Regions from separate parts of the Homo sapiens genome. Here region 2 is linked to region 1. Evidence: fine-mapped expression QTL. Tissue or cell type: whole blood. Region 1 holds a variant in brackets; the other region holds the start of a gene. All regions are shown on one strand. Distances are between the middles of the regions.

Region 1 (2,651 bases):
TTTAAAAGTCATTCTAGGCCAGGCCGGGTGGCTCACGCCTGTAATCCCAGTGCTTTGGGAGGCCGAGGCGGGTGGACCACGAGGTCAGGTGTTCGAGACCAGCCTGGCCAACATAGTGAAACCCCATCTCTACTAAAAATACAAAAATTATCCGGGCATGGTGGTGCATGCCTGTAATCCCAGCTACTCAGGAGGCTGAGGCACGAGAATCCGCTTGAACCCGGGAGGTGGAGGTTGCAGTGAGCCGAGATCGCACCGCTGCACTCCACCCTGGGCAACAGAGCGAGACTCCATCTCAAACAAAACAAAACAAACAAACAAAATGTCATTCTACACTGTGAAAAATGAGCTGGAGGAGGCAAAGGGAAGAAAGGGGAGATCAGTGAGGAGGCTGTTGTCATAGCTCAGGCAGGAGTATGGTAGCTTGGACTTGGCAACAGCGTGCAGGTAGAGCACCACCGCTGGAGTCTGGATGCGGGATGCATTCTGATGTAGGGAGTGGGGGACCGCGCAGCATCAAGAAGCCACCGCTGGAGTCCAGATGAGGGATGCGTTCTGATGTAGGGAGTGGGGGACGGCGCAGCATCAAGACTTGCACTGAAAATTTCTGCTTTGAGCAACTGCGTGGAATGGATGGAGGTGTCCTTCACCAGCTATGGGAAAGGCCAGGGAAAGGTTTAAAGGGCTGAGTGTGGTGGCTCATGTCAGTAATCCCAGCACTTCGGGAGACTGCGGCAGGAGGATCACTTGAGTTGGAGACCAGCCTGGGCAACATAGCAAGACACTCTTTAGAAAAATTAAAGTAGAGAAAAAGAAAGGTTTAAAGGGAAGAGACTGAGGGTTCAGAATTGTACCTCATCAGTTTCTGAGATTCCTGTGAGCTCTCCAAGTGCATAAATAAATGTGGGAATCATTAACAAATAAATGGTATGAAAAAGCAAAGGAATGGATGAGACCACCCAGGAAAAGTGTACAGAGAGAGAAGAGAAATAAAGAGGAGAGAGTTAAAGAGACCAGAATAGGCCAGGCATGGTGGCTAATGCCTGTAATTCCAGCACTTTGGGAGCCAAGGGGCGAGTGGATCACCTGAGGTCAAGAGTTGGATACCAGCCTCGCCAACATGGTGAAAACCTGTCTCTACTAAAAATGCAAAAATCAGCTGGGTGTGGTGGCACATGCCTATAATTCCAACTACTCGCGAGGCTGATGCAAGAGAATTGCCTGAACCCGGGTGGCGGAGGTTGCACTGAGCTGAGATCGCACCATTGTACTCCAGCCTGGGCAACAAGAGCAAAACTCCATCTCGAAAAAATACAAAAATAAAAAAATAAAGAGACCAGAATAGAAGAGAGCCCAGGACTGAGTCCTGAGGAAACAGCACAGAGATCAGAGAGAGGAGAAGACTCTGAAATAGGGAAACTGGAAGAAATGGCCAGAGA[C/G]AGGAGAAAACCAAGAGGGTCAATGTCACTGTGGCTGAGAGAGAATATTTCCAGAGGATGAATTTGCTCAGCCAGCCAAGTGCTTCTCACAGGGTCGCTCCATACAGAGGCCATTGATTTCATGGGCACATGGAGCTGATTCAAGAACGAGTGAGAGGAAGTGACAGCGTGTGCAAGAAGACAGCTTGTAGAGGGCTGGCTAGCTTCTCCTCACTTTGTAGCCACATCTGCTATGAACTTATCCCATCTCTTCTTCCAGATTTCCATGAAAGTATTTTTCTCACTCTCCAACAGGGTACTGTACCTGCAGGAAGAGGAGGAGCCCAGGTCAGCCTCAGGGCAGGGGTTGGGGAACGGGGCAGGGAGCCTGAGAGGACATTAGAGCCTTGCAGAGCACTCTCCCCAGGCCAGCAGCAAGGACTAAACAGCCATGATGAGAAGGAACCCACAGGAACCATCGAGGCATCTGCCTCAAGCCTCCAGAGAGGCAAACACAAGCTGCGGGCTGGAAGGAGGCGGGGGACCTGGGAGGACACAGGACACTCACTTGATAGAGTTCATGGCCAGCTGTTTGAGGGTCCTCAGGTCAGCCTTCATCCCCCCAATGCCCATGAAGACCTCATAGAAATCATAGGACAAGCCTTTGGCACCAAACATAGCTGGGTCATCAGAGCTGATCACCATGGGGTGCCCAGTGGCCATCAGAGTGGCTACAGGGTGGTTCCTCAAGTCAGACACCAGTTTCAGCACCTGCGCAATAGGAGGGAAGGGAGAAAGATGAACTCTGATCCCTAAAAAGAGTAGTCACAAGTGAGGTGAGACCTTGAGCCCCATCAGCTCCCTTCATCTTCCCATCACTATCTCCCCAGTATGGGGATGACTTCTGGGCAGAGTCACAAGGAGACATAAGGAACAGAGCCAGTCCTTATGCTCCTCCTCATGTTTCATCAGCACTGCAAACATCGGGTCACTTCTGTTCCTGCTCAGAGAAGCGCTAACTGAACACAGACACAAAGGACCCCAAGAAACCATGGGGAGCAGCATCCCATGGTCCGTCCCACTTCACTGGCCTCCCCCCATGTCCTTTTTGCTTTGTCTACAGTCTTGCCCAAAATTCCACCCCACTGGGGACCCTCACTGCTGCCTCATTCTTATTGGTGGCTTAGGCAAAAGGCCCCTCCTGAATAACTTTACTAACAGGGGTAGGAGAGT
Region 2 (2,802 bases), 38 kb after region 1:
TAGAGGTGCAAGGATATGACAAAAATGGAAAGTTTGCTACTCATTAAATCATTTTAATATCCAAGATTCTTCCCAGCTCAGTTATTCTGTAGTACATCAGATAGCAAAGAAAATTTTAAGAAGGAACTAGTATCAGCAATATGCAGTTATGGCAGAAGCTGTACCCCCAAAATCAGAGTGCTGGACGTCAGCAGAACCCCTTTAACTTCATTAAGTCCTTGACTCTCTTTTTTGACCACGGTGTTTGCCTGCTACTAAAATCTCTAGGGCAGGAGCACGGTGACTTCTATGTCACCATCCCACCTACCCCATGCCACATTCTCCATCAACAGCCCCGCCCCTTGTCCCTGTCTCCCTGGTGACACATAACAAAGGCCATCAAGCTCCCAAATCTTCAACTCCATCCTCTCCAAGAAGGACCCCAAAAGCATTTGTGTCCCAGCAACTGTGAACTTTTCCAGGCTGCCAGACAGAAGTTTATCTAATGGTGGTCAAGACCTGCCTGGTTGAATACTAGTAAAAACAATCCTTATTCACAATTTATTGCTATATCTACTTCATCTTCTCTCCTCCACAAGATTTTCCTTTTACTTTTAAAAGAGGATGCATGAAAACTTCATAAAGTAGTTTGCTTCCAGACTAAGAAGAAAGGAGGCTGGGTGTGGTGGCTCTGCCTGTGATCCCAGCCCTTTGGAAGGCCGAGGCAGGCAGATCACCTGACGTCAGTCGTTCAAGACCAGCCTGGCCAACACGGTGAAACCCCGTCTCTACTAAAAATACAAAAATTAGCCGGGCGTGGTGGTGGGTGCCTGTAATCACAGCTATTAGGGAGGCTGAGGCACAAGAATGGCTTGAACTCGAGAGGCAGAAGTTGCAGAGAGCCGAGATCGTGCCACCACACTCCAGCCTGGTGACAGTGGAGTAGGCCACATGCATCTGTGGTCCTGAGTAAATGCCCTTGGGCCCATTTTCAAAAGCCTGTTGGGAGAAAGCCTGTTACTCCTCCACTGAGAGTCTCAGACCCAGCTCAGATGGAGACAGGGAGAGGTGCAGGTGGATCAAGCCCAAGCTCCGGACTTCCCAGCTACCTCCTGAACCTCATCATCCCACAGCTCCCAAAGGACCCCAGTTACCTCGGAACAGCTCCAGAAACTGAGGGCTGTTTGCTCAGCGCCCCAGCATCTGTGCAGAGCACCGGAAAAGCTCACCAACTGTTTCACTTCCTGTTGGGGTAGGTTTTATTTCCCTCCAGTGTGCACCAGGGATCCAACTAGAGGCCGGGGAGAGGGGCTCTGCAGTGCTGAGGCAGCCAGAGTGGCAAGTGTGTGGCTTACATGCATGCTTGCTGTGTGCATCTGAGTTTGATGTGGGGGGCTTGTGCGCATGTTCATGTGGGTGTTTGTGTGTTCGTGTGTGTTTCGGTTTATGTGCATGTGGGGTTTGTTTTTTTTTTTTTTTTTTTTTTTTTGTAGACAGAGTTTCACTCTTGTTGCCCAAGCTGGAGTGCAATGGCGCAATCTCAGCTCACTGCAGCCTCCGCCTCCCGGGTTCAAGCAGTTCTCCTGCCTCAGCCTCCCGAGTAGCTGGGATTGCAGGCGTGCGCCACCATGCCCCACTGATTTTTTGTATTTTTAGTAGAAATGGGGTTTCACCATGTTGGTCAGGCTGCTCTCGAACTCCTGACCTCAGGTGATCCGCCCACCTCGGCCTCCCAAAGTGCTGGAATTACAGGCGTGAGCCACCATGCCCGGCCGCATGTGGGTTTATTTGTGTTGGAGGGAGGGTGTGTGTGTGTTTGTGTGTACTGTGTCTTTGAAAGGTCCACAGCATGTTGGTTTTGGAAACAAGCACCGCAAAGAGGCACTCCAAAATCTGTTCATGAACTCTGGGAAGTTCTCCTTCCTCAAAATGTGATTGTGGACTGTGGGGCAACCCATTAGACAGAGAGTAAAAAGTAGCTATAATAAAATATATGTTTTAGGGGGGAAATCAGGGATGCGGGGACAGGACAGTAGAGGGGGCAGGAGGTAGGAGACAAGAGCTGGGGTGTGAAGAGGACCAGCAAGAACAACGCTCCAAGGGACAAGTGGAGCAGACAAGGCTCCTGTACCCAGGACGGTCAGAGTCAGACCTCGCTTTGTAGCTGGCCTTAGCACTGTAGCAGTGGGGCCTCGACCAAGTTGTTTCAACTCTCTATACTTCAGTTTCCTCATCTGAAAATGTGGATAATAAAAGCACCCACCACAGAGGGTCCATTGTCAGAATTAAAGGAAAAACACATGCAAAGTACCTGCCACATAGAAAGCTCTTGATAAATATTAGCCATGACTATTCTTAGAAGTAACTATTGGGATGCCTCATCCAAGCCAATTAGAAATGCAGACATGGGAGGCTACACCAGGGACCTCCATGTCACATGCATGGTCTAAAGACTCGATTGCACCCCACTCCTCCCCAGTCCCACTCAAATCTACCCCCAAGACCCCAAATCTACCCCCAAAAGCCCACGGCAGTTTCAGTTCTGCAGCTCCCATACATCTGGAGCCTTGATGCTCCTTTTTGTCATTTTCTCCAAAAAGTACCAAGGTCATTCATTTAATAAACAGGAAGAAATCCCAAAGTGAAAACACAGAGGGGTCAGGGATTCCCTCATCAAGAGTTCAAGACTAGGCTGGGCTCAGTGGTGCATGCCTGTAATCCCAGCACTTTGGGAGGCCGAGGCAGGTGGATCACAATGGAAGGGGTTCGAGACCAGCCCCTACTAAAATACAAAAATTAGGTGTGGTGGTGCGCACCTGTAAT

What was found. PIP is the estimated chance that this variant, and not a neighbour inherited with it, causes the effect.
Region 2: it holds the start of ADA2, and the variant in region 1 is fine-mapped to the expression of ADA2 in whole blood (INTERVAL, PIP above 0.99).

Annotation. Positions count from the first base shown.
Region 1 is chr22:17,179,834-17,182,484 of GRCh38, forward strand. ADA2 (adenosine deaminase 2) reads right to left here. Exons shown (of 10, transcript NM_001282225.2): 9 at 1,987-2,189; 10 at 1-1,743. The coding sequence ends at 1,650. Among named protein-coding and RNA genes, the nearest start is that of HDHD5-AS1, 22 kb to the left of the region's middle. The variant C/G (reference allele first, on the strand shown) is at 1,440.
Region 2 is chr22:17,218,223-17,221,024 of GRCh38, forward strand. It overlaps ADA2 (adenosine deaminase 2), which reads right to left and starts at 1,213. Exons shown (of 10, transcript NM_001282225.2): 1 at 1,134-1,213. RefSeq lists enhancers at 590-950, 791-860, 871-1,000.